Homo sapiens: one gene and its partners. The protein of the gene in region 2 purifies or fractionates together with the protein of the main gene of each other region. This does not show direct contact. Each region holds a gene or a part of one and is shown on either strand. Other genes may lie near its edges. The genes, in order: CCT6B, RHOF, KIF14 and NAA25.

Evidence for each region.
Region 1: the proteins of RHOF (region 2) and CCT6B purify together in Homo sapiens (affinity purification with mass spectrometry; 2 studies listed by BioGRID and IntAct, with this or other methods). This does not show direct contact.
Region 3: the proteins of RHOF (region 2) and KIF14 purify together in Homo sapiens (affinity purification with mass spectrometry; 2 studies listed by BioGRID). This does not show direct contact.
Region 4: the proteins of RHOF (region 2) and NAA25 purify together in Homo sapiens (affinity purification with mass spectrometry; 2 studies listed by BioGRID and IntAct, with this or other methods). This does not show direct contact.

The regions. Positions count from the first base shown.
Region 1 is NC_000017.11:34,937,445-34,944,468, reverse strand, and holds part of CCT6B (T-complex protein 1 subunit zeta-2), read left to right. Parts: intron 1-1,562; coding exon 1,563-1,673; intron 1,674-1,825; coding exon 1,826-1,985; intron 1,986-3,847; coding exon 3,848-3,930; intron 3,931-4,755; coding exon 4,756-4,852; intron 4,853-5,138; coding exon 5,139-5,286; intron 5,287-7,024. UniProt on the Homo sapiens protein: Component of the chaperonin-containing T-complex (TRiC), a molecular chaperone complex that assists the folding of proteins upon ATP hydrolysis.
Region 2 is NC_000012.12:121,783,666-121,790,689, reverse strand, and holds part of RHOF (rho-related GTP-binding protein RhoF), read left to right. Parts: exon of another isoform or gene 1-535; intron 536-7,024. UniProt on the Homo sapiens protein: Plasma membrane-associated small GTPase which cycles between an active GTP-bound and an inactive GDP-bound state. Causes the formation of thin, actin-rich surface projections called filopodia.
Region 3 is NC_000001.11:200,617,741-200,625,572, reverse strand, and holds the start of KIF14 (kinesin-like protein KIF14), read left to right. Parts: upstream 1-4,821; 5' UTR 4,822-5,162; exon of another isoform or gene 5,163-6,734; 5' UTR 6,735-6,849; coding exon 6,850-7,832. UniProt on the Homo sapiens protein: Microtubule motor protein that binds to microtubules with high affinity through each tubulin heterodimer and has an ATPase activity. Plays a role in many processes like cell division, cytokinesis and also in cell proliferation and apoptosis.
Region 4 is NC_000012.12:112,042,775-112,049,798, reverse strand, and holds part of NAA25 (N-alpha-acetyltransferase 25, NatB auxiliary subunit), read left to right. Parts: intron 1-187; exon of another isoform or gene 188-316; intron 317-1,355; coding exon 1,356-1,507; intron 1,508-2,008; coding exon 2,009-2,134; intron 2,135-3,187; exon of another isoform or gene 3,188-5,146; intron 5,147-5,930; coding exon 5,931-6,174; intron 6,175-6,587; coding exon 6,588-6,711; intron 6,712-7,024. UniProt on the Homo sapiens protein: Non-catalytic subunit of the NatB complex which catalyzes acetylation of the N-terminal methionine residues of peptides beginning with Met-Asp, Met-Glu, Met-Asn and Met-Gln. May play a role in normal cell-cycle progression.

The DNA of each region.
Region 1 (7,024 bases), on a different chromosome or scaffold from region 2:
AGAAGGATTTTTTGTATTAATGATAGGAATTGTTACTGCAAGTTTGTATGCTGGTAAGGATGGTTCTTTAGGTGAGAATTGATATAGGGGACTAGGGGACAGTGCAAGAACAGAGAGGGAAATGGAATCCAGTACACAAGTAGAGAGGCTACCCATAGAGAGGAACATGGACAGCTCATTCATAGTAGTAGGAGGTTCAGGGTCAAGTGCAAGTGGATTGGTAGAGGTAGTAATGGGACAATGTTTCTATTTTCTCAAAGAAACAATGTCATTTGCTGACAGTAGGGAGGGAGGAAAGTGAAGGAGGCTTGAAGAGTGAGGAATGTTGAACATAGTGTTATTGTTTCTAGATATGTTTACATTCTGTTAAGAGGTGGAGTAATCTAGTTAAAGTAAAATTTTGAAAACTTCCTTATAATTATGTTGAACTAAAATAGTTTAAAAATATATAACAAAAATTAGTTATAAAGGATTCATAAGTAGAAATTCCATCCCCTGAATGTTTTGTAAATGAATTTTATAAAGTTATAAAAATATTGACTCTTGAAAGATTATTTGGAAAACAGGAAGAAACACCTCCTTTCCAAATCATCTATATTCCTACTACCCAGGCATAACCCCTACTCTTAGGTCCCTCCCATTTTTTTTCTTTTTAATGCCAAGTTGTTTTTTTTTTTAAATTTATTTATTTATTTATATTTTTTATTATACTTTAAGTTTTAGAGTACATGTGCACAACGTGCAGGTTTGTTACATATGTATACTTGTGCCATGTTGGTGTGCTGCACCCATTAACTCATCATTTAACATTAGGTATATCTCCTAATGCTATCCCTCCCCGCTTCCCCCACCCCACAACAGGCCCCGGTGTGTGATGTTCCCCTTCCTTGTCTGTTGTTAAAAAGAACAGTTATAGGCATGCTTCATATGCAATTTGTCATTCTATGCTTATCAGCTAGCCCTATAAATATTTTTCCATGTTATTACATACTTTTTATAACCATCAAATAGTTGGGTCATTATTTGCTGAATAATACCCTATTGTTGGACATTTAGGTTAACAATTTTTAGTTGTTCCATATAATCATTTTGAATAAATGTTCCTAAGAAACTCATTGTATACGTACCTTTCATTACTTGATAAGCTGTGTCATATTTTTGAATCACATAACTTAGAAAATAATTCTGGCTTGACTTTTTATTGTGACTTCATAGTCACACTGTGTTAAAGTAGATTCTCTTTCCTAATTTTACTAATTATATGTTAGGTTTAAAGTCAATGCAAGGAGGTGGGTGAGGTGGTGCACTCCTTTAGTCCCAGCTACTTGGGAGGCTGAGGCAGGAGGATTGCTTGAGCCCAGGAGTTCGTGGCCAGCCTGGACATCATAGCAAGACCCCCATCTCTGAAAACAAAAAACAAAAACACCAAAAACTGTTAAAATTGGTACAAGGAAACAATGTGTGTCCTGGAAGTATTGATGTAACTTTAATAGTACAATGATAATTTTATACCAAATTTTAGAGTATATATTCAAAGTAAGAAACATTAATATTTTTAATAGGTTGATCCAAGGATTAGTTTTGGATCATGGTGCCCGTCATCCAGATATGAAGAAGCGAGTAGAAGATGCATTTATCCTTATTTGCAACGTTTCACTGGAATATGAAAAAACGTGCGTGTTACTTTCTCTTTATAACTTTTGAATTTTTTTTTCTAAAGGTGTTTTAAAATCTCTTTTTCCTTCCAGATGTTTGGTGTAGACTACTTCTATCTTTTTTCCTTTTTCCTCCTGCCTTTACTAGCTGGTTTTTATTAATCTTTTAGAGAGGTGAACTCTGGTTTCTTTTATAAGACTGCAGAAGAGAAAGAGAAATTGGTAAAAGCTGAAAGAAAATTTATTGAAGATAGAGTACAAAAAATAATAGACCTGAAGGACAAAGTCTGTGCTCAGTCAAATAAAGGATTTGTCGTCATTAATCAAAAGGTGAGAAAGAAAGTTTAGATTTTAGTTATTTGTAAATGTTCTTAAGCATTTCTTGAAGTGTGGTCTGTGGACCCCTAAGAATCCCTAAGACTTTTTCAGAGAGTCTGTGAGGTCAAAAACTATTTTCATAATAATAATTACACCTTTTACATTGTGTTGACATTTGCAATGATGCTGCAAAAGCAATCTGTAAAACTGCTGGCACCTTAGTACAAGTCAAAGAAGTAGCACCAAACTATACTAGTAGTCATCGCATTCTTTATTGCTATACCACTGCAAACTTACAGTGAAAAAAAAAAAAGGCAGTATCATTTAAGAGTGTCTTGATGAAGTGGTAAAACTTATTAATTTATTAAATTTTGATTCTGAAATATGCATCCTTTTATTATTATGTGTGACAAAATATGAAGTATGCACAAAGCACTGTTTTTTTTTTTTCTTTTGAGACAGGGTCTTGTTCTGTCATCCAAGCTGGAGTGCTTGGGTGGCACCATCATAGCTCACTACAGCGTTGACCTCCTGGGCCCAAGTGATCTTTCCACCTCAGCTTCCCAAGTAGCCAGGACTACAGGTGTGCATCACCATGCCTGGCTAATTTTTAAGTTTTTTCGTAGAGGCTGGGTATTGCCATGTTGTGCAGGCTGGTCTCAAGTGATCCTCTTGGCTTGGCCTCCCAAAGTGTTGGGATTATGGGGCTGGGAACTTCAAAGCTCTTCTATTGCATACCAAAATATGATGGTTGTCTTGAAGGAGAGCACTTGTGTAATTGTTTAAATTGCAAGGTAAACTAGCCACTTTTTCATGGAATGCCACTTTTACCTGGAAGAATGACTGACAGACAAACTGTGGTTATCTAGATATGGGTATTTGGTAGATTTCTCTCAAAAATGAATGAGGAAATTCTGTGACTTAAAACAACTGACAGTATTTGTTGTCAATAACATTTGAACTTTTTTAAAAAATTAGAATTTCAGAAAACTTGTATCTGCCATGTGAACTTGACAGCTTTCCAATACTTAAAAGACTTTCCTGATAATAGTAGTGATATTAACAAATGTGAGTTTTTGTTCACTGAGATAGGCAAAGTTTCCACATGCATAACATGACACAGTTTCTACATGTATAACACAACATTTTATATATGAAATGTGTCAACATGTGGAAACTTTGCCTAACTCAGTGAACTGATGCTATCTACATGACTAAAAATGCATGATTTTTATAAAATCATACATGGATAAATAATCCATTCAGTGTGCAAGTTACAGCAATGTGTTTTAATGTGAGATAGTATGAAAAGTTCATTGCTATGGTTCCATAGTGAAACTAACCTTTGAGAAACTATTACTTACTGAGTTTTGGTATAGTATCAAAGAAGAATTTCCATAATTATCTGAAAAGCCTATTAAAATATTACTCCCTTTACAATATTTATCTGTGTGGGGCCAGATTTTCTTCATAAACTTGAACCAAAATAACATATCATTCCAAATTGAATACTGAATGAGATATGAGAATCCATTTGTTTTCTATGAAGATAAACATTGAAGAGATTTGCAAAAATGTAAAGTAATGCCACTGCTAGCTCACTATATATATTTTTGTTTTCAAAAGTGTAGTAAATTTTCATTTAAAATGTTATGTGTATTAACATAAAATGGGCTTATTATTTAAATGAATTAATAAATATTTTAAAAATTTCTCAGTTTTTATAATACAAATATTATAGATAGAGCTTACATAAACAAAAGCTTTTTGGGTGCTTAATCATTTTTAAGAGAGTAAAGTGGTGCTGAGACCAAAAGGTTTGAGAAATACTGGTTTAAAACATGTTTATAATTTTTATGTTAATTTGATTATAGGGAATTGATCCATTTTCCTTAGATTCTCTTGCAAAACATGGAATAGTAGCTCTTCGCAGAGCAAAAAGAAGAAATATGGAAAGGTAAGCTTGCAGATAATTATATATCCTAAGTTTTTAACAGAGTAAATGGAAACTATCCCATGTGTTTTCCTTTTAGCTTATGTGTAAATGTTGTTGAACAAAACAGTGGCATAAAAAAATCCAAATTTTGTTTTTAGTTTCAGTAAATAATTGAACTGTCAAAAAGCAAGGTTGTTAACCTACTGCAGAACTTTGTTGAAGTATAAGGAAAGTTTTTATCTTTTTAAAACAGATTTTAAAAACAAAACAATACAACATAATACAGCATGATCTCACTTTTATATATGGAATCTAAAAAAGTTGAACTCATAGAAGTAGATAGTAGAATGGCGGTTACCAGGGGCTGGGGCAGTGGGAGGGGAGGGGCACTGGGAATATGTGGGTCAAAGGATACAAAATTTCAGTTAGTTAGGAGGAATAAATTCAAGAGATCTATTGTCCAACATGGCAACTGTAGTTAATAACAATATATTGTTCTTTTTAAAAATCTTTTGCAAACCCACCCGAGAATGCACAATGTGTTGGATTCTTGAAAAATGCTGAGAGTAGATTTTAAGTGTTCTTATCACACAAATGGCTAAATCAAGCCTCACATAGGCAATATGTATGTTAATTAGCTCAATTTAGCCATTCCACAGTGTATACATATTTAAAAACATCATCATGTTGTACTCGATAAATATAGACAATTTTATTAGACAATTAAAAACCCAAAACAATACAATACAGTAACAATACAGTCTTCTGCATTAGATATCTTCTCTCTGAGAAATTAGTATTAATGTTCTCCATAATCAAGCTATGGTGACATATATGTAATTTCAGACTCTCTCTTGCTTGTGGTGGAATGGCCGTGAATTCTTTTGAAGATCTCACTGTAGATTGCTTGGGACATGCTGGTCTTGTGTATGAGTATACATTAGTGAGTATTTCTATGAACAGTGGTTATAAAGTGAATACTAAGCCCCCTTTTTTAAAGAAAAATACTACTTGACCTTTTATTTCATGTTTTGTGTTTTGAGATCTAATTCACAGAACAGATTTTACAGTTTATTTACCTAAATGTTTGTTAAGAGTTCAGATATAACTTAACTCCCTTAGTTATGCTTGATAAGAAAAATTCAAATGAAGATTGTATTCTAGTATAAATTGTTGATTTTATAATGACATCAAATATTAAAGTTATATATTTTTGTGCCACCCTTTAGGGTGAAGAAAAGTTCACTTTTATTGAGGAGTGTGTTAACCCTTGCTCTGTTACCTTGTTGGTTAAAGGACCAAATAAGCATACTCTCACACAAGTCAAGGATGCCATAAGAGATGGACTTCGTGCTATCAAAAATGCCATTGAAGATGGTAAGCTCTTTCTTGTGATTGATATGAACCTCATGTATATGTGTGTATATATGTATATATATATACACACACACCTATGTATGTATATATGTATATTTTTAGACAGAGTCTTCCTCTGTTGCCCAGGCTTTAGTGCAGTGGTGCGATCTCAGCCCACTGCAACCTCTGCCTCCCAGGTTCAAGTGATTCTTCTGCCTCAGCCTCCCAAGTAGCTGGGATTACAGGCACACACCACCACACTTGGCTAATTTTTTGTATTTTTAGTAGAGATGGGGTTTCGCCATGTTGGCCAGGCTGGTCTCGAACTCCTGGGCTCAAGCGATCTGCCCTTGTTGGCCTCCCAAAGAGCTGAAATTACACGTGTGAGCCACCATGCCTGGCCTTTAAGTCTTTTTAAATTTTATTTTTATTATTAATCTATTTAATCTATTTATTTCTTTTGAGACCAGGTTTTGAAACTGGCTAATTTTTGTATTTTTGGTAGAGATGAGGTTTCACCATGTTGCCAAGGTTGGTCCTGAACTCCTGGGCTCAAGGGATCCACTTGTCTTGGCCTCCCAAAGTGCTAGGATTACTGGCATGAGCCACTGCGCCTGGCTGCAAACCTCACATATATATATTTTTCTCAAGACAGGGTCTTGCTCTGTCACCCAGGCTAGAGTGCAGTGGCACAATCATGGCTCACTGCAGCCTCAAACCCCTGTGCTCAAGTGATCCTCCCACCTCAGCTGGACGATAGGTGCATGCCACCACACCTGGCTAATTTTTAATTTTTTTTTGTAGAGATGAGTTCTGTCTATGTTGCCCAGGCTGGTCTTGAACTCCTGGCCTCAAGCAGTTTTCCCCCTTCAGCCTCCCAGAGTGCTGGGATTTGTAGGCACGAGCCACCACATTCAGCCCATGTTGAGCATCTTTTAATGTGTTTATTTGCCCTTTGTATATCTGGTGAATTTTCTGTTTAAATCTTTTGCCCTTTTAAATAATTGGATTGTTGGCCATGCACAGTGGCTCTCACCTGTAATTCCAGCACTTTGGGAGGCCAAGATGGGAGGATTGCTTGAGCCCAGGAGTTGGAAACCAGCCTGGGCAACATAGCAAGACCATGCCTCTACACACACACACACAAATAGCCAGGCGTGGTGGCCTGTACCTGTAGTTCCAGCTACTTAGGAGGCTGAGGCAGGAATATCACTTGAGTCCCAAGAGTCTGAGGTTACAGTGAGCTATGATCACACCACTGCACTCCAGCCTGGGCGTCAGAGTGAGACCCTGTTTCCAGAAAAAAAAAAAAGAGAAGAAAAGAAAAGAAAAAAATTTGTGTTAGTATACTATTGTTGAGTTTGAGAGTTCTTTGTATATAATTTGGGTACAAGTGCTTTTTCAGATATATAATTGGCAAATTTTTCTCCTCTGTGGCTTATTTTATTATTAACAGTGCCTTTCAAAGAGAAGTTCTTAATTTTGATGAAGTCTAATTTATTATTTTTATTCTGTCATGGATTATGCTTTTGGTGTGGTATCTGAAAAATCTTTACCTAACCTAGGGTCATAAAGATTTTCCTCTAAAAGTGTTACAGTCTTATGTTTTACATTTAGGTCTGTGATTCATTTTAAGTTAAATTTTGTATATGGTGCAAGTATGGATACAAGTTCATTTTTTTCATATAAAGGTATCAGATTGTTTTAGTCTTATTTGCTGAAAAGACTTTACTTTCACCACCGAATTGCCTTTTCTCGT
Region 2 (7,024 bases):
TCTGACAGACCCCAAGGAGGGGCACCCAGGGAGAAGAGATCTGGCTGCTCCCTGTAGGGTATCCCCCCGTGACCAGGGAAGGCTTGCTCATAGGAGGAAATCCCCTGGTCAGTGAGTGCCACCAGGGAGAGCCCAGGTCCCAGTGCTTGTCATGGAGCAAGGCCTGGAAGGTGATGGAATGAATGGGTAGTGGATCCGAATGCCGGAGATGATTCATCTCGGCCTGCAGGTGGACGGCTCTCAGGAGAACAGGACAGAAAGCCATGGCCAGGCGGCCACGTAGAGAGAGGCAAAGGCCAAGAGGGTGAGGGAATGGCCAAGCCAGAAATGAGTCTAGTAAACGTAGTTGTAGAAAGTTCTAGAACCCAATGGGCCACACACAGTGGCGGAAGGGGCATCTTCCCGACTGGTGGCCACCAGAGCTGTGAGACAGGGGTGGCTCTCAGAGGCTGAATTTCTCCACACCCAGGACCAAACGCTGGTCCTGGGCAGGGGCCGGACGCTGCCCACAGGGGCCCTCGTGGAAGGCCCGTGTGGCTGTCTCCCTCCTGAGGAAGTAGTTACAGACACCACAGCGGAGGGAGGGCAGATCGGGTGACGGGGCTCGCAGGGCTCAGAAGGGAAGGGGCGGGGGCCATGGCACTCACTGCTCTGTCGGCCTCACCGGGGCCCTGACATCCTCTGAGGCAGGAAGCTGCGGTGAAGTCTGAAGTTTCCTGGGCCGGGGGAGGCGGGGTGAGGTGGGCTGTGAAGACACAGACGGGAGAGTGAGCTCATCAGGGCCAAGGTGTGGGGTCCAGGGTTAGAGGGGCACAGGATGGGATAGGGGTTGCCCGGGGAGCGGTGGTCCCCTTTTCAGCCTGAGATGGGAACAGAAAGAAAATTGTTAGGCAATGGAGTAGGATTTGCTAAGACAAGGAACCAGGGACAGATGTGTGTTGTGAGCCCCAGAAGCACCGGAGGCCTGGGCTGAGACAAGGCTGGGGTCACCCAGAAGGTGGTCTCAACTCCCAGCTGGGGCTGCCCAGCCCCTGTCTCCCTGGGAAAGCACAGGTGGGCGGCCCCCAGCAGAGTGAGTAAAAGTGGGTTCCTCTTCTGGCAGCTTCACTTCTCATGCTGCCAGTACCCCTCCCTGACCAACGCCGCAGCTGGAGCTGGGGTCCACCCGCCCTGTGTGTCCTCCTGCAGATTTGAGGTCTTTTTTCCTCAACTCTGCTCTGGGCCTTAGAGACCCCTGTCCCTGGAAGCAGGACTTCCTTGGCAAAGCCTCATCCCACCAAGAAAATAGCCCTGTGTGCGGCATGAGCCTCCCTTCCGCCCAGCCCTGCCGCACCGCCTGAGTGCACGTCAGGACGATGGGCGGCTCTAGGGGGAGCCCAGGCCTAGAGACTTCCTCACCAGAAGCACGTGCATCCTTTGCATGTAATTCCTGGGTTTTTTTTTGAGGTGGGGAATGGTTAGAGACAGGGTCTCGCTCTGTCACCCAGGCTGGAGTGCCATAGCATGATCATAACTCATTGCAGCCACAGCCTCTTGGGCTCAAGTGATCCTCCCATGTCAGCCTCCCAAAGTGCTGGGATTACAGGTGTGAGCCACCACGCCTGGTCTACCTGGGCTGTTTTAACCTCTAAGCCCATCTGCAGAGGCTGGATGGGCCCCCTCTGTGACTACGGGCAGGTGACATGGACCCTTTCAGCCCTGGTATCATTTTAGGTAGAATGTGGAGGGTAATGGTATCACCTGGTGGCTGGGAGGCCCCTGAAGCTTCTGGGTCCAAAGATTCTGGGGTTCTGACCACCCACCATGCCAGGCTATTAACTTCTCCTGGAAGTTTCAACAGTAACCACAATAGCAGTCCTCCTGCCTCCCGGCACTGCCCCCCACTCCACCCCTGCCCCTGCACTGCTCCCGCTCTAAGCATTGCCTCCCTTCTCCTGGGCTTTCACCTTCCAGATTAGGGGGAGGGTTATCACTGTTATCACCCCCTCTCCCAGATAAGGAAATTGACACCCAGAGAGGGAAATGTGGGCGTCAATTCGAGATGTGGAGGCTGCCCTGAACAGTCCTGCCCAGAATGTGCATGAGTGAATGGAACCTGACCCTCCTGACTCATATGAGAGAAGGTATTTATTAATAGTACGCTCCCCCATCCCCAAGTGGGCATGGGGTTGGTGCACACGGAAGTAGTCCTCTGCAGGCCTGGTCCCCCCACCACCCCCACGCCCCAAAGGCCCACACTGAATTCTAGGGAAAGCTGGGTTGGGCAGAGTCAAGCCAGGAAGGCAACCTGGAGGAGGTGCTGGAGTCGGAGCTGGCTGCCTCTCCCTTTCCAGAGGCCCTCTTTCTTGAGAGGGCTGACATTTTTCCTCACCTGGTCAGGGCTGGGACAAGTAGGGTGAGGATTCCTTCCTGTTTTCTGGGGTAGGCTAAGAAAAAAAAATACTCCAGTAAGGTCCTCTGTTATTTACAAAGCTTCCCCTTAGCTGTGTGGCCTGGGGCAAGTCACTCCAGCTCTCTGTGCTTCCGTTTCTCAGCCTGTAAAATGGGGCCAACAATAGTGTCTACCTTGTAGGGCTTTTGGGGGAAAGATGAGTTAATCCAGGTGAAGGGCTTTGAGCTAGACCTGGCATGTAACACAGTGGTACACACCTGCGGCCCCAGCTCCTCAGGAGGCTGAGGCAGGAGGATGGCTTGAGCCCAGGAGGTTGAGGCTGGAGTGAGCTATGATCACACCACTGCACTCCAGCCTGAGCAACAGAGCAAACCCCGCCCCCCCCCCCTTTTTTTTTTTTTTTTTTTGAGGCAGAGTCTCACTCTGTTGCCCAGGCTGGAGTGTAGTGGTTCAATCTCTGCTCCACCTCCCCAGCTCAAGTGATTCCCCTGCCTCAGCCTCCCAAGTAGCTGGGATTACAGGCATATGCCACCACATCCGGCTAATTTTTGTATTTTTAGTAGAGACAGCGTTTCACCATGTTGCCCAGGCTGGTCTTGAACTCTTGACCTCAAGCGATCCGCCCGCCTCAGCCTCCCAAAGTGCTGGGATTACAAGCATGCGCCACAGCGCCCGGTCTAGACCATGACTTTTATATGAGAGAAAGAGAGTCGATATTAACCATCTTTATTATGACTGTCATCAAGGCTCGCTCACTTTTCACATCTCCATTTCACAGATGAGAAAACTGAGGCCCAGAGGTTAATTCCCGGTTGGGAAGGCTGGGGACAGCTTCCTGGAAGAACTGGTGCTTTTAGAATGGCCTGGCAGGCAGCTGACCTTGGGGACTGGTTGGCCTCTGGCTCACAGGGTGCTTGTCTCTGACCTTGACAAAGGCCCCCTCCACCACTTGCGTTCTTAACAGGAAGAACTGTCCCCACCCAGCGCACCTCCCAGGGTGGCTGCTTGAATGAACACAGGTCAGGAAGTGGAATGCCCTTGCCAAGGCTGCAGGGCACCTAAAGCCAGAGAGATGACGATTAACCCTCTTCAACCACTCCTTCCTTTGAGCCTTCCTTCACCAAACAGGTATTGAGCTCGCCTGTGTTCCCAGGGACCCAACAGTGAACAGCACAGAGGTGGTTCCTGCCCGCAGGAGAGGCAAACCAAAAAACCCAGAGAATTACTGTTTTTTTTGTTTTTGATTTTTGTTTTTGTTTTGAGACAGAGTCTCGCTGTGTTCCTCAGGCTGTAGTGAAATGGCACGATCTCAGCTCACTGCAACCTCAGCCTCCTGGGTTCAAGCAATTCTCCAGCCTCAGCCTCCCAAGTAGCTGGGACTACACGTGCCTGGCCCCATACCCGGCCAGTTTTTTGTATTTTTAGTAGAGACAGGGTTTCACCATGTTGGCCAGATTGGTCTCGAACTCCTGACCTCAAGTGATCCACCTGCCTCAGCCTCCAAAAGTGCTGGGATTACAGGTGTGAATCACCCCGCCCGGCCCCAGAGAAGTATTGTGAAATCAGGTAGGGGTGAGAGCCATGAGTAAAGCCACTGTCATGGGGCAGACTGCCAAGGAAGCTGTTTCAGAGCAGTCAGGAAAGGTCTCTGGGAGGAGGCGACATTCCATAGAGCCCTGAAGGAGAGGAGGGAAGGAGCCACACTGCTCCCTGTTGAAAGAGCCTTCTGGAGGAGTGAACAGCAAGGGCAGAGGCCCCAGGAAAGGCAGGCAGGGTGTGACTGCCTCCAGCGCCCCGGGGCTGACTTCTTCCCTCACCCACTGCAGCCTGATGCCTGCCCCGCCACCTCCTGTCCTGATGTCACTGCATGCCATAGTTGCCAAACCCAGTGGGCAAGTCTCAACCCTTGTCTCTGCTGTGTGTGACGAGAGTGGAACAACCTTGGCTGACATGGTGGCTCACGCCTGTAATCCCAGCACTTTGGGAGGCCGAGGCAGGTGGATCATCTCAGGTCAGGAGTTTGAGACTAGCCTGGCCAACATGGTGAAACGCCGTCTCTACTAAAAATACAGAAAAAAGGCCAGGTGCTGTGGCTCACACCTGTAATCCCAGCACTTTGGGAGGCCGAGGCGGGTGGATCACAAGGTCAGGAGATCGAGACCATCCTGGCTTACACGGTGAAACCCCGTCTCTACTTAAAAAAATAAAAAAAAAATTAGCCGGGCGTGGTGGTGGGCGCCTGTAGTCCCAGCTACTCTGGAGGCTTGAAGCAGAAGAATGGCGTGAACCCAGAAGGCGGAGTTTGCAGTGAGCCGAGATCACGCCACTGCATTCCAGCCTGGGCGATAGAGTGAGATTCTGTCTCAAAACAAACAAAGAAAAGAAAAGGCTGGGCACGTGGCTCACACCTGTAATCCCAGCACTTTGGGAGGCTGAGGTGGGCGGATCACGAGGTCAGGAGATCGAGACCATCCTGGCTAACACAGTGAAACCCCGTCTCTACTAAAAGTACAAAAAATTAGCTTGGTGTGGTGGCGGGCACCTGTCAAGTCCCAGCTACTCAGGAGGCTGAGGCAGGAGAATCGCTTGAACCCGGGAGGCGGAGGTTGCAGTGAGCTGAGATCGCACCACTGCACTCCAGCCTGGGTGACAGAGTGAGACTCCGTCTCAAAAATAAAATAAAATAATAAAAATACAAAAAAAATTAGCCAGGCATGGTGGCACCTGCCTGTAGTCCCAGCTACTCAAGAGGCTGAGGCAGGAGAACCACTTGAACCCAGGAGGCGTAGCTTACAGTGAGCTGAGATCGTGCCACTGCACTCCAGCCTGGGCAACAGAGCAAGACCCTGTCTCCAAAAAAAAAAAAAAAAAAAAAGTAAAGAAAAAAAGAAATGAGAGAAGACGTCCAAGGGGGCCCCATTTTATAACCTTATCCACGGTTTCACTTTCTGTAGTTTCAGTTACCTGAGGTCTGAAAATATTACCTGGAAAATTCGAGAAATAATTCATAAATTTTAGATCATGCACTGCTCTGAGCAGCGTGATGAGATCGTGCGCTGTCCTGCTGCATCCCACCCGGGATATGATTCGCCCCTTCCTCTGTGTATCCCTGCTGGAGACACCACCTGCCTGTGAGTCAGTCAGTAGCTGGCTCGGTAACAAGCCAGGCTGGTCTTGAACTCCTGAGTTCAAGTGATCCTCCCGCCTTGGCTTCCCAAAGTGCTGGGATTACAGGTGTGAGCCACGGTGCCTGGCCCTGTTTTATTTTATTCTTGTTGTTAATCTCTTACTGTGCCTAATTCATAAACTAAGCTGTCTTATAGGTGTGTACATATAGAAAAAAACAGCGTATCTAGAGTTCTAGACTGTGGTTTCAAACATCCACTGGGGGTCTTGGAATCCACCCTTGTGGGTTAGGGGGACTAATGTACCTGTTCACTCCGGCCATATTTGTAAAAGGGAATAAGTTATGCCAGAACTGTGAACCCCATTGTTACATCTTAAAGGACCAGAACCTATTTTTGCACAATACAAAACAAAATAGCACGTTAGTGTGTATCAGCAGAAGGAACATCCCACTTGGAATTTCATGAGCTGGGGTTGACTCCTGGCCCAGTCACTGAGTCATTGACCTCAAGCAAATCACTTCATTTCTGTGACTCTCAGGTTCTTCCTATGTTGTGGGAGTATTCATCATTTCCCTACCATATCTGGCTGTCATGTAAGGATTTTTTTTTCTTTTTTTTTTTTTTTGAGACGACGTCTTGCTCTGTCACCCAGGCTAGAGTGCAATGGCACGATCTCGGCTCACTGCAACCTCTGCCTCCCAGGTTCAAGCAATTCTCCTGCCTCAGCCTCTGGAGTAGCTGGGACTACAGGCACCTGCCACCACACCCAGCTAATTTTTGTATTTTTAGTAGAGACGGGGTCTCACCATCTTGGTTAGACTGGTCTCAAAATCCTGACCTCGTGATCCCCCTGCCTCGGCCTCCCAAAGTGCTGGGATTACAAGCATGAGCCACCACGCTTCACCAAGGATTTCTTAACCATTTCTAGACTAAAGCACCCTGAAAACTGCATAGAGTATAGGATGTATTATTATAAAGGCAGTCGCAGAGGGCAGGCAGTTATCCTCAAAAGGGAAAAAATATAGATGGTTAATCTGGATGTTTAAGAATAAAATGCTAGAGAGAAAACGGTGAAAAGAGAAATGAGGGAAGGACCTTCCTGGCATGTGGAACAGCAAGCACAAAGGCTGGGACATGAGAGCTTGGTGGGTTTGAGAAACAGTGAGATGGTGCCTTGGCGGGACTGCAGTGAGCAAGCGGGTGTGGCAGGCGATGAAGTCATGTGAACCAGGGGAGATGTTTGGATTTTATGCAAAGGGCAATAGGGGCCAGGCACGGTGGCTCATGCCTATAATCCCAGCACTCTGGGAGGCCGAGGCAGGTGGATGACCTGAGGTCAGGAGTTCAAGACCAGCCTGGCCAAGATGGCAAAAACCCCATCTCTACTTAAAAAATACAAAAATTTCATCCCTGTAATCCCAGCACTTTGGAAGGTCGAGGTGAGTGGATCACCAGAGGTCGGGAGTTCGAGACCAGCCTGACCAACATGGAGAAACCCCATCTC
Region 3 (7,832 bases), on a different chromosome or scaffold from region 2:
TGTGGTCTAAACCAAAAAAAAAAAAAAAAAAAAAAAAAAAAACCTTATGTAAACGGGTAAAGACATGTGGATGGGTGTGGAATTATTCATGAAGCTACAACACTGAAGAAAAACTCCCCTCTCTCCCCTCTAGAAAGACTGAGATGATGTATAATTCTTGCAATCCAGGTGGCTTCTTACTTGACAGTTGCCCTTTTATACCCACGAACATGAGAAGCAATTACTTGACACAATCTTTTTTATGCTGTTTTTTAAATTAGAAAATTGATTTATGTGAATACACAAACTAAAAATTGATTATAAAAACAACTAAACATGTGTCATTCTAGGCAATTCTAGGCAGCCTAGACACTGCTAGTATTGACATGTACCACCGAAAAGAAATGAGATTATGAACTATTTTGGGGTTAGTACAGACAGCTGAGTGATTTGTACATACTCAACATTCTTATTGAGATCACCTAATACCTCTCTGTAAATTTGTTGAAAAGTAAGTGACTTGAAGCTTTTCATTATCCATTTTAGGAAAATACCTACAAGTCTACTTGGAGGAATCCCCAGCATTTTCAACAGGATGTCAGAATGACCTTGGGCTATGTTGGCAAAGCACAATGGGAAGAAGACAACCAATTGAAGGTCAAACTAGGCCTTAAAAAAAATTGTTCTTCCTAAATGAAACTTTATGTAAGACCCAAGCTTCCTTTATGTAAAAATAGGATACTCACTAGGCTTTGGGGCTGACAATGGTTTTTAAATCTTGCTAATCTTCCCTGGAATGAAACCAGCATGACTCAAAGAGAAAAAGAGAGTCTATAATATTTTCTAATCCCTGAGTTCTTTTCTTTATATATTAAAAAGGATTACTAGGCTGGGTGTGGTGGCTCACGCCTGTAATCCCAGCACTTTGGGAGGCCGAGGGGAGTGGATCACCTGAGTTCGAGACCAGCCTAACCAACATGGAGAAACCCTGTCTCTACTAAAAATACAAAATTAGCCAGGCGTGGTGGCGCATGCCTGTAATCCCAGCTACTCAGGAGGCTGCGGCAGGAGAATTGCTTGAACTCGGGAGGCAGAGCCAAGATCGCACCACTGCACTCCAGCCTGGGCAACAAGAGTGAAACTCTGTCTCAAAATAATATTAATGATAATAATAATAATAATAATAGGGATTACTTGCATAATTGTTCTTTTAAAATTATTGGCAGTATTGCTGAATGTATTTAGATTTTTTCACCAAGTGACAACAACTGAATTCATAAAGATTCATCAACAAGACCTGATAAAAAAAAATGTAAGCATATTATAGTGGATACTTCCAAGACTCTTGGTCTAACATGTATTAGAAAGCAGAAGGAGCCCAGGCACAGGGGCTCCCGCCGGTAATCCCAAAGCTTTGGGAAGCCAAGGCAGGTGGATCGCTTGAGCTCAGGAGTTAGAGACCAGCCTGGGCAACATGGTGAAATCCCGTCACCACAAAAAAATGCAAAAATTAACTGGGCGTGGTGGCATGCACCTGTAGTCCCAGCTACTCTGGAGGCTGAGGTGAGGGGAATCACCTGAGCCGGGGGAATCACCTGAGCCCAGGGAAGTTGAGGCTGCTGTGAGCCATGGTCATGACACTGCCCTCCAGCCTGGACAACAGATTGAGACCCTGTCTCAAAAAAAAAAAAAAAAAAAGAAAAAAGAAAAGAAAGAAAAAGAAAATTAGGGCCGGGCGCGGTGGCTCACGCCTGTAATCCCAACACTTTGGGAGGCCGAGGCGGGTGGATCACGAGGTCAGGAGATCGAGATCATCCTGGCTAACATGGTGAAACCCTGTCTCTACTAAAAATACAAAAAATTAGCCAGGCGTGGTGGCGCATGCCTATAGTCCCAGCTGCTCAGGAGGCTGAGGCAGGAGAATGGCGTGAACCCGGGAGGCAGAGCTTGCTGTGAGCCAAGATGGCGCCACTGCACTCTAGCCTGGGCGACAGAGCAAGACTCCGTCTCAAAATAATAATAATAATAATAATAAAAATAAAAAAAAGAAAATTAGAAGGAAAATACAAAATATGACAGATTTTAAAATACCTTTAGGTTCATGCAGTTTGTTTAACTCTTGTCCTTATTATAAAGCCATAGACATTTGAGATCCAGAAAGAATCTGTAAAAACTGTTGTACAGGGTAGTGGTACAGAGCACAGGAAATGGTGTTTAATTTCCTGAGTTCTGAACCTAACTCTGTGACCCAGTAGTTGTATAATGTCAGGCAAGCTATTTAACTCCTTGGAAACCCACTTTCCCTCATGTGTAAAACAGCGATAATCATAATACCTATCTTATAAGGTTATGGAGTTAGGTTATTTATCTTGCACAAAGAAAGGACTCAATCCTTGCTGGTTATGATGATTTAATCCAGCACTTTCGTTTCACAAGCGAGGGATCTACAGTAAGGAGACTTATCTCTGGTCTCACCATTAGGTTGAGACAGATCCTCAGCTAGAATCCAAAGTGCTCTTACCACTTTTCCACAACTTTTGCTTTGTCCTTTGCATTTTAAAATTATTAATTTCCTATTGCACCTTTTCGTTATAGACCCCAAGTGCAACTAGATACAAACACCAGGAAAATACATACCACATTTTAATAATTTAAAAATTGTGAAATTTGCTAAATTGTAATAGATTTAATCTTAGGCCGGGCGCAGTGGCTCACGCCTGTAATCCCAGCACTTTGGGGGGCTGAGGTAGGTGGATCACCTAAGGTCGAGAGTTCGAGACCAGCTTGACCAACATGGAGAAACCCCTTCTCTACTAAAAATACAAAATTAGCTGGGGTTGTGGTGCACGCCTGTAATCCCATCTACTCGGGAGGCTGAGGCAGGAGAATCGCTTGAACCTGGGAGACGGACGTTGCGGTGAGCCAAGATCAAGCCATTGCACTCCAGCCTGGGCAACTAGAGCGAAACTCCGTCTCAAAAAAAAAAAATTTAATCTTAAGAGATCATTAATTAGCATGAGTTAATCATTTTTCTTTAAATCTTACATAATCCAGAAAGCTTCAAACGTGCCAGTTTTACTTCGACTCTTTCCACGTTTTCTTTCTGTTTGTCTCCCTCTGGTGGATTTAAAAAAATACTTGCTTTATTCTATTTATGAGCTTATTTTCCTTTTAAAATTGAAAAAGGTCTTTATGTCTTCTGTCATGTTTAATATATATTTCCAGTTACATTTTATTTTTATTATTTTGAATTATACATATGTTTAAAATTTTTATGTATTTGAGTTTGTCTGTCTTTTCTTTGACATATCTTGCTTTGTTTCTAAATTGAATGATCATTTTCCCATAGATGTGATAACTTTTTTTTTTTTTTTTCTTGAGACGGAGTTTCTCTCTTGTCCCCCAGGCTGGAGTGCAATGGCGCGATCTCGGCTCACTGCAACCTCCGCCTACCCGGTTCACGTGATTCTCCTGCCTCAGCCTCCTGAGTAACGGGGATTACAGGGGCCCGCCACCACGGCTGCCTAATTTTTGTATTTTTAGGAGAGACGGGGTTTCACCATGTTAGCCAGGCTGGTTTTAAACTCCTGACTGCAAGTGATCCGCCTGCCTTGGTCTCCCAAAGTGCTAAGATTACAGGCGTGAGCCACCGCACCTGGCCCTGATAAATATTATATTCTATTTTCTGATAGTTTCCTTATACCTTAATTTTAATTGAGTTTTAGAATGATTTTTAGAGTAAGATTTAGAATGAGTACTTTATCATCTGTTTGGTTGGTCTATATAATTGGAGCTACTTATGGTCTCTATCTCAGTGAATACTTCTTCAATATCTCTGTACTTTTTGCCTGTTTAAAAAACATTGTTGCTTTACAATATCTATTTATCTAGTCTTTCTCATTTATTTGGTTATTTTTCAGAATGTATTTGTAATATTTTTTCAGATTTCAAAATCTTATGGGGGCTGGGCGGCGCAGTGGCTCACGCCTGGCAGCTTACAAGGTCAGGAATTCGAGACCAGCCTGGCCAATATGGTGAAACCCCGTCTCTACTAAAAATACAAAAATTAGCTGGGCGTGGTGGTGCGCGCCTGTAATCCCAGCTACTCCAGAGGCTGAGGCAGGAGAATCGCTTGAACCAGGGAGGCGGAGGTTGCAGGGGCCACTGCACTCCAGCCTGGGCTGCAGAGCGAGACTCCGTCTCAAAAAAGAAAAAAAAAATTAAAAAAAGGGAACTTTTACTGAAACGGAGTTACATTGTACGGCGGCAAGAACCTTCAAGTTCTAGTTATGCCACTGCTAATTGTCTGATCTTTCACAAGTTTAACTCTAAACCTCAGTTCCTCATCTGTAAACGAGGGATAACATTAATATTTATCTCACAAGATTTTCAGGACTGTTTAAAAATTCATATAAGACATTTAGCATATTTCCTACGTGAACGCCTTGCATAGGAAACACTAGAAAAGTTAATTATTATGATTAACTTGGGGGCAAATATCCATTTACAATGTGAAGTCTTCGATGTAATGGCTTCTTTTAGATTAAAGACCGACAAGAGTGTCACTGTCATGCTTTTCGTTTGACACCCACTTCAACGAGGGGCCCGCTGCGCCCGCGACCGCCGCCCCTTCCTCTGGTCGGATTTAAAGGGGGCCAAGCTCCACGCTTTAGCAGAACCCGAGGAGGGGAGGGAGCGTTGCCTGGGAGATGAGGGTGGGGCGAGTCCAGCATTCAGAGACGGCTACCGGAGCCCAACCACCGGCACTTCCGGGGGGCGGGTGGAAGCAAAGGCGCGGCACCCGACGCGACGCCCAGCAGCCAATCAGAAGGCGGGGCGCCCATTCAAATTGCGGCCTTCTGGGGAGCCGGCGCTGGAGGTGGTGAGTGGCGTGGGGACTGTGTCGAGGGGGTCCCCAAGGTGCCGGACCCTGCGGAGGGGCGAAGTTTCGGCACTGGGGAGGGCGTGCGGACGCTTTCCCTACAGGCGACCACTGCTCTGCGGGCGGGTGGTCTTAGCTCCAGTCCCCCATTCAGTTCCTCAGCATTCCAGGTCGGCGGCGAAGGGGTCCCCGAACGAAGGGCGCAAGGCAGCGTCTCTGCTGGGACCGGGAAGCCGGACTTCAGGGCCTCTCGGCCCGTGGGCTTCTCCCCGAGTCTCCCCGAGTCGGTTGGCATTAAGAGGTAATTCTTAGTCATAGCCCCTGGTAATGACTAGCAGAGAAAGAACAGAATCACCGGATGTTTTGGTTTGGATTGTGCTTATTTTCCTTGTATTCCTTCCAGTCCTCTTTAAAATCTGATGGCGAAACTCCTCAAACAGAAACCGTATTGATTTGTGCAAATCGCAAATGGTTTTTAGTTGCAAGAGAATTTCCAGAATCTTCTTTTTGCCTTTAAATTCATTTCATAACAGGAAAATTCTGTATTTTGAGTTGAAACGTTGATGGGAGATGCTTATAAGCTGACGAATTTTTTTTGTAATGACTGTTATTTATGTAAAAATTTAAAAGCCTCATTTAAAAATGAACTTCCATTAATTTGTTCCTCGCTAGCAATAATCTTTGCAATAGTTTGAACCAGTGTCATTTTACAGGTTAGAACCCGGCATGCAAATTTAAAGTCTTGTTTACATCCTTGTAAGGAGTTGGATACAAAGCTGACTAAAAGCCAGGTCTCTTAGCTGTCACTGCTGTTCCCTTTCTTTAAAACGTTAATACCTGATAGATATTGTTGCTGTATATTTACATACACCTCTGTCTAATTTGTTGTCTTACTGCTAAAGGGCAGGTTGTCTGTTTATCTAATCTTGCATGGTTTTTCTCAACACAATTAATTTACAGTACTTATCGTACTTACTGCCTGTGGTACTTGGGAATAATCTGCCTCGTGACACCAATCAATTCAATCTTCTCTATAGGCATTCCTGTATTCAACATACATGGGCCGGACGCGGTGGCTCACGCCTGTAATCCCAGCACTTTGGGAGGCCGAGGCGGGCGGATCACAAGGTCAAGATATCGAGACCATCCTGGCCAACATGGTGAAACCCCGTCTCTACTAAAAATACAAAAATTAGCTGGGCATGGTGGTGGGCGCCTGTAGTCCCAGCTACTTGGGAGGCTAAGGCAGGAGATTTGCTTGAATACAGGAGGAGGAGGTTGCAGCAAGCCAAGGTCGTGCCACTGCACTCCAGCCTGGTGACAGAGCAAGACTCCATCTCAAAAAAAATATTTTTATAAAAATAAAATAAAATAAACCTTCTTATGGAACATTGGCAAAAAAAAAAAATACGTGTAGCAGGTATTTATAAAAATACTTTGCTCCACACTCTGATTTAGGTGCTAGGGTTTCCTTTAGTCCTTCCCATTCCCCACACTGGAAGTACTTGAAAATCTATGTTGGCATGCACTTTTTACATCTTCTAAGTCACTTGACACATTTGGCCTGATATATGGCTTATCAGTATATTTCTTCTAGACTAAAGAAATGGGAATTGTATTCTTGTCTTTGAAGTCTACAGTATCTATCAGAGGGCCTGGCACTAATGGAAACTTAGTCAATATTTGTTGAATAATGATGGTAAGTTCTCTGAGAGACTTGCCTGAAGTTGCTTGGAAGCAGTATCTGAGCTGCAGATTGTGATCTATTGTAATGTATGCCTCTGGGAATTTACTTACACAATGGGATGTTCTCTCTATATTTTTAAAGCTTGTTTGTAGTCTGTGTGATCTAAATCTTTTTTTTTTCTTTTAGTTTAGCAGATACTTTCAGAAATGGATACATAAGAAATGGCTGGAAATCAAATGAATGTCCAAAGAAGAGCTTAGGGTCTTAGTAACATTCTTTTTTAAAATAACTGTCTGCCAAAATGTCATTACACAGTACTCATAATAGAAATAACAGCGGTGATATTCTTGATATTCCTTCTTCCCAAAATAGTTCATCACTGAATGCCCTCACCCACAGTAGCCGACTTAAGCTGCATTTGAAGTCGGATATGTCAGAATGTGAAAATGATGATCCATTATTGAGATCTGCAGGTAAAGTCAGAGACATAAATAGAACTTATGTTATTTCTGCCAGTAGAAAAACAGCAGACATGCCCCTTACCCCTAATCCTGTAGGTAGATTGGCACTTCAGAGGAGAACTACAAGGAACAAAGAATCATCTTTGCTTGTTAGTGAGTTGGAAGACACAACTGAAAAAACAGCAGAAACACGTCTTACATTACAACGTCGTGCTAAAACAGATTCTGCAGAAAAGTGGAAAACAGCTGAAATAGATTCTGTCAAAATGACACTGAATGTGGGAGGTGAAACAGAAAATAATGGTGTTTCTAAGGAAAGTAGAACAAATGTAAGGATTGTAAATAATGCTAAAAACTCTTTTGTTGCCTCTTCTGTACCTTTAGATGAAGATCCACAGGTCATTGAAATGATGGCTGATAAGAAATACAAAGAAACATTTTCTGCCCCCAGTAGAGCAAATGAAAATGTTGCACTTAAGTACTCAAGTAATAGACCACCCATTGCTTCCCTGAGTCAGACTGAAGTTGTTAGATCAGGACACTTGACAACGAAACCTACTCAGAGCAAGTTGGATATCAAAGTGTTGGGAACAGGAAACTTGTATCATAGAAGTATTGGGAAGGAAATTGCAAAAACTTCAAATAAATTTGGGAGCTTAGAAAAAAGAACACCTACAAAATGTACAACAGAACACAAACTGACAACAAAGTGCAGCCTGCCTCAGCTTAAGAGCCCAGCTCCATCAATACTGAAGAATAGAATGTCTAACCTTCAAGTTAAACAAAGACCAAAAAGTTCCTTTCTTGCAAATAAACAGGAAAG
Region 4 (7,024 bases), 9.7 Mb from region 2:
CCAAGGGGCCATAGGATAGGCATATGTGTTTAGAGTATCCTGGCCTCCTCTTGATAGGGTGTATCACTGTCCTTTAATCAAGCTAGAAGGTATACTCGAGCTTTTTCAGGTAGTCCTTCTTGAAACCTGCAGGATCACAAGTAATCTTTTTAATTTTCTTGTGTCCGTCCGTCTTTAATTTCTCCAGATACTGCAGGCAAACAGCTCGCCGAGGTGTCCCATGGGGGTTTAAAAGCCGCATCGAATGCAGTTGAATTAGCGCCCGTGGCGCAATCCCGCGGCCTGAAATGAACCCTGCAAGGCTGTATATCAGAGGGTATGTTGTTGACTATTGGCCTATTTTCCTACTGGGCAAATTATTCAGACGTAATGGAGATGGGGGCAGAGCTGATTAACTGAGGCTGTGTAAAAAGACTGTTTTTTCTAGAAAGGATCTTTTTTGGGGGCAGACATCAGCTTTGAGCATAATAGTTTCCTTGGCCCAAAGGGGTAATCTCCTGTCTTCTGATCCTGATGGCATAGACCCACACCCATGAAATGTTCTTCCCTGAGATTTTCTTCTATTGTGCCAGAATTTCTGCTTAGAATTCTTTATCTTGCCTCTGTTCTGTAATGTTTGATCTCTGTATATGTATTAAGCTACAATTAAAGCACATGTGGTGAATGTTCCCTTCACATACTTGTTTAAGGAAATTTCCAGCAGAGGTCTTACGTAATGTAGATGGACAAGAAACTTGGTTCTTGAAGTCTTTGTCCTCAGAATAGATTATGACATGAATTTTGATAGGTCTTTTGTTTGGTGTCTTACTTCTATCCTGACGTAATGCTCATATGCCCTGTGTTTCTAATACAGTATTCAGAAATAAGCAAAACCAAGGAGCAGCCTGTCTTTTTCTGAAGGAGAGTGGTTTTTATTTGGGGGGGCGGGGGGCAGGTGGTTCTATTATTCTGGTGCTTTTGGAACCTTTGTATGAAACACAGTTTATCTTAGATGCAGAAAAACATGGAGTAACATCCCTTCCAGAATGGCACTAACCAAATTTTTGACTGATGTGGCAAAACAAAACCTCAGTTCCTATTGAATTGAAAGACATGACTGCCAAGAGAAGGCTTATGTGATGGTGGCAGAAGCTGGTTATTACAATTAGTAATATTAGTAAAGGAGACATTTGTCTAAAGTATAAGAAGGAAGAAAAACATTTTAAAAAGCTAATATTCTACTTGGTGACCAAGACCTTTAAAGATTAGATTTAAAACTTAATTTTAGTTTGAGTGTTTTGTTTTGGCTGGCAAGGTTTGCTTACATTGCCTGACTTGTGAACTATTTATACCAAGGTGATGTCTTTCCTTCTCAGACCTCAGAATATATTATTCAAGCTTACAAATATGGTGCATTTGAGAAGATCCCAGAGTTTATCGCTTTTAGGAACAGGCTGAATAATTCTCTTCATTTTGCACAAGTCCGTACTGAACGGATGCTGTTAGACCTTCTACTTGAAGCAAATATGTAAGTATTGCATGAGAGCTATAAAGGAACTAAGGGATTAGATCAGTTGTTAAGAGCCATTAATGGGCTCATGGGTGTTATTGGCAGGCTTAAGGTAAAATAGGGGGAAAAAAGGGAGAGAGACAGTGGGGAAACAGAACTTGGCACATGTCATGGGGAATGGTAGAGTACTGCCAGCAACATCTTGAGACCATTACAGAAGCCATTTAGGTCATGGTCATCAATGCCTGGTCCATATTGTGCTTACGAAGGTTCCGCCTCCCCTACAAATCAAGAGATTTCAGGAATTAATGCTGATCCCCTTTGTTTTGTGTGGGCTTCCAGAAGCCTTTTTCTTGCCATGTAGCAAGCCAGTTTGATCTGCGCTTGGTTCTATTTCACCTTATTATGAGCCCTTCCTTCCTCTTTCCCTTCCTGTCTAGTAAAACAGGAAGTCCTGATTAATAATATTTTCTGGCTATTTTACTATTAAAATAATATGTGGATTTTTCTCTATCACAGATCAACCAGTTTAGCAGAAAGTATAAAGTCAATGAACCTTAGGCCAGAAGAAGATGACATTCCATGGGAAGATTTGCGAGACAACAGAGACTTAAATGTTTTTTTCAGCTGGGATCCAAAAGACAGGTAACTGGAATTTAACCCCAAGCAATTTTTAAAGTTTTTGTTTGTTTTTTGTTTTTTTAAAGAGACCAAGATCATAGCTCACTGCAGCTTCGAACTCCTGGGTGAAGCAGTTTATTTTTAAAGAATTAGGTTGGGCTGGGCACGGTGGCTCAGGCCTGTAATTGCAGCACTTTGGGAGGCCGAGGCCGGTGGATCACTTGAGGTCTGGAGTTCGAGACCATCCTGGCCAACATGGTGAAACCCTATCTCTACTAAAAATACAAAAATTACCTGGGCGTGGTGGCGTGTGCCTGTAATCCCAGCTATTCGGGAAGCTGAGGCAGGAGAATTGTTTGAACCCAGGGAGCGGAGGTTGCAGTGAGCTGAGATCGCACCATTACACTCCAGCCTGGGCAACAAGAGCAAAACTCCATCTCCAAAAAAAAAAAAAAAAAAGAATTAGGATGAATCTAAAATTAAAAAAAACAAACTTCACTTTACACAAATATAAAATAACATGTGTTTGTTGTAGGGATCAGAAAATATAGGTAAGCCAAATGAAGAAAGTATAGCTCACCCCTATGCTGGGACTGCTGGTTAATCTAAAAGTTAGATCTACTTCACAGCATATATGAGAATTCCAGATCGATTAAAGACTGTATGCTAAATTCTAGATTCCTTAGAAATTCTAGAAGAAAATATAGAAAATATTTTTAAATAGGTGAGGAAAGCCTTTCCTAGTATTATACCAAATCTGGAAACATAAAGGATTTAACTTCTGTAAATAGAAATAATAAATTTGTTAAGTTCTAAAGGTTTGTAGTAAATTTCTTCATACAAGTATCCTTCATATATAGAGAGAACTCTTAATAAGTCAATAAGAAAATAAGAAATTGGGCAAAGAAACACATCTTACAGCAATAAAGATTTTGTTTCTAGCAAAAAAGATGAATACTTGTGGTCAGCAAGGCTGTGTGGTAAATACTTATTATGCATTTACACAGGGATAAATTTTATACAGTCTTCCTATAGGGAGTTGTAGTGATATGTATCAAGATTTAAAATGCCACATACCATTTAATTTGGCAGATCTGCTTCTAGGAAAGTAGAACCTAAGGAAATAAATGCAGAAACATGCTAAGAAGTGTATATGAGGTAGTTCTGAAAATTCTGTGATTTGTGGGTTGCCAAGGCCACATTCAGTGATTTAGGATTGTTGAGTCCCAGAAGGATTCACAGGGCTGAGCATATAGTTGCACTCAACGGCTAAGGTTTATTACAGTGAAAGGACACATGACAGAATCCGGAAGGGAAAAAGGAACAGGCACAGTCGGGAGAACTCAGACTTCCAGTGCTTTCTCCCTCCTCTGAGGGGAAACACTGAGTATGCTCCTTTCTCCAGCAGGGAAAAATGCAGTAACACAGGTGGAATGTTCCTGCTCAGGGAAACCCAGTAGAGACTTGGTGCTTAAGGTTTCATTGTTATGTGGGTACACTCTGTCTATCCTGAGTGGAAAGAAAGCAGGTATTCACCATAAACAACATGGTTTATATAAACAATCTAGGCACAGCGAGTCACTCTTACCATTTTAGGGAACAGTTGGAGTGCAAAGTTCCCAGACATCAGCCAAGGGCCAACCTTGCAAGTAGGCCTTTCTAACGATAATAGCTGCAGGCCTGCTATGTTAACTCTTTTCTACACATACTGTCATAAAAAGATGAAGTTTGCAAAATAATGTAATTACTGTAACCAATTTGTTTAAACTTAAGTTGCATACATACTATTTTTAGTTACTTTTTTTTTTAGATGGAGCCTCTGTTGCATACTGTAACCAATTTGTTTAAAATTGTTAAGTTGTGTAAGTATTATTTTTAGTTACTTTTTATTTTTGAGACCTAGTCTGTCTCTGTCGCCCAGGCTAGAGTGCAGTCGCATGATCTCGGCTCACTGCAACCCCCACCTCCTGGGTTCAAGGGATTCTCCTGCCTCAGCCTCCCAAGTAGCTGGGATTACAGGTCCCTGCCACCACGCCCGGCTAATTTTTGTATTTTTAGTAGAGATGGGGTTTTGCCATGTTGGCCAGGCTGATCTCAAACTCATGACCTCTGTTGATCCCCCCATCTGGGCCACTCAAAGTGCTGTGATTATAGGTGTGAGCTATCGCAACCAGCCCCTATTTTTTTTTTTTTTTTTTTTTTGTGATGGAGTCTCACTCTGTCGTCCAGGCTGGAGTGCGGTGGCGCAATCTCGGCTCACTGCAACCTCCGCCTCCCGGGTTCAAGCAATTCTCCTGCCTTAGCCTCAGCTGGGACTACAGGCGTGTGCCACCACGGCCGGCTAATTTTTTTTGTATTTTTAATAGAGATGGGATTTTACTGTGTTAGCCAGGATGGTCTCGATCTCCTGACCTCATGATCTGCCTGCCTCGGCCTCCCGAAGTGCTGGGATTACAGGCGTTAGCCACTGCACCGGGCCACACCCGCTATTTTTAGTTAGACTTTTATACATCCACATTACAAAAGTCTAAAAAGATCTATACCAAACTTGATAATACTGTGAGTATTGGTTATCAGGGCACCTTTTCTACGTTTTACATTTTTCTATCATTTGCATTTTTTATGTTGTGTATTATTTTTATTAGAGACAGGATCTTACCCAGGCTGGAGTACAGTGGCGTGACCATATCTCACTGCAGCCTTGAACTCCTGGGCTCAAGCAATCCTCCAATCTCAGCCTCCCTAGTAGCTGGGACTACAGGTGTGTGCCACCACGTCCAGCCAATTTTTTGTATTTTTTTTTTTTTTTTTTTAGAGACTGGGTCTTGCTATGTTTACCAGGCTGTTCTCCAACTCCTGGCCTCAAGCAGTCTCTCACCTCAGCTTCCCAAAGTGCTGGGATTACAGGTGTGAGCCACCACACCTGTCCTCATGTATTATTTTTATAATCAGAGAACAAAGTGTCACTTATAAGGAAAATGACCTGTTTTTTTTGTTTTGTTTTGTTTTGTTTTGTTTTGAGATGGAGTCTTGCTCTGTCGCCCAGGCTGGAGTGCAGTGGTGCAATCTTGGCTCACTGCAAGCTCCGCCTCCCTGGTTCATGCCATTCTCCTGTCTCAGCCTCCTGAGTAGCTGGGACTACAGGCGCCCACCACCACGCCCGGCTAATTTTTTGTATTTTTAGTAGAGACGGGGTTTCACCGTATTAGTCAGGATGATCTCGATCTCCTGACCTCGTGATCTGCCCACCTCGGCCTTCCAAAGTGCTGGGATAACAGGTGTGAGGCACCGTGCCCAGCCAAAAATGACCTGTTAAATAGGTTATCATTCCCATTTTATTGATAGTGAAATGGGGTTTGAGAACATTTTGGCTTGTCTTAGGTCATTCAGCTAGTAAATGAAAGCTGGAACCCTTCAAAGGCATCTTAACTGGTGAAAGTTAACTTTAAATGATTTGAGGCCAGGCGCGGTAGCTGACGCCTGTAATCCCAGCATTTTGGGAGGCCAAGGCAGGCAGATCACGAGGTCAGGAGATCAAGACCATCCTGGCTAACACGGTGAAAACCCGTCTCTACTAAAAATACAAAAAAAAAATTAGCCGGGCGTGGTGGCAGGCGCCTGTAGGCCCAGCTACTTGGGAGGCTGAGGCAGGAGAATGGCATGAACCTGGGAGGCAGAGCTTGCAGTGAGCAGAGATAGTGCCACTGCACTCCAGCCTGGGCGACAGATCAAGACTCTGTCTCAAAAAAAAAAAAAAAAATTGAAAGCAATGGATTGAATATTGAATAAGTTAGATAATTTGGGGATGTTTCTGTTTAAGGGACGTTTCTGAAGAACATAAGAAACTTTCCTTAGAGGAGGAGACCTTGTGGTTAAGAATCCGATCCTTAACATTGAGGCTGATAAGTGGACTTCCAAGTCTCAACCACCCTGTGGAGCCAAAGAACTCGGAGAAGACTGCCGAGAATGGGGTATCCTCCCGGATTGATATTCTTCGTTTGCTCCTTCAACAGCTGGAGGCAACCCTGGAGACAGGAAAGCGATTTATTGAGAAGGATATTCAGGTACCATCAATACATATTTACCATCAAAGTTGCAATAATTATATTTATGACTGTTTTATAAACAGGAGTTTGGGGTGGGTGAGTAGTAAGGAATTGTTTTGTCCCAGTTTATGGCTTCTGCAGGAGAAAGAGGAATATTTTAGACTCAGAGGGAATTGCAGAGGCTTCCTCAATATCCAGACTAGTGAGGGAGAAAGCAAAATAACTTTTTGTGGTGTTAAGTTTTTAATAGCTAGCAACAAATTAATATAAATGTTCTGTTTTTACTGTAATGATTCAGTTATTAGTTTGCTGATTAGTGGCTTTTAGCTGAACCGCTGAGACAGGTTTTTATCTACTAGTTACCTGATTTTCTTATTTTGTATGCATTTAGATGGATTTAAAAGAGCATTATTTTTCTCCCTTTTTTCCAGTATCCTTTCCTTGGTCCTGTACCTACCAGAATGGGTGGATTCTTTAATTCTGGCTGTTCTCAGTGCCAGATAAGCTCTTTTTATCTTGTCAATGATATTTATGAGCTGGATACCAGTGGTTTAGGTAAGTGTACACTGTGTGTTTATAGGGTCTTTGTCATAGAAAATGTAGTACACGTAATAAAATGTCTATAACCTCACATCTGGAAAATTTTAGAGTACATGGAAGCTGGAAGCTGTTCTGCAAATGTGTGGTGTAGTGTATGAGAGGGTACAGTCGTAGGTTACAAAGTAATGTTTTAGAAGCTTAAGTCCATTCCATATTTAAAATCACTTGTTAGGTCCAAAAGTTGAAGAAATTCTTCATTTGTTGAAAGGCTGTTGGATTTTAAAAATGAAGCAGTAGGCTGGGCGCAGTGGCTCACGCCTGTAATCCC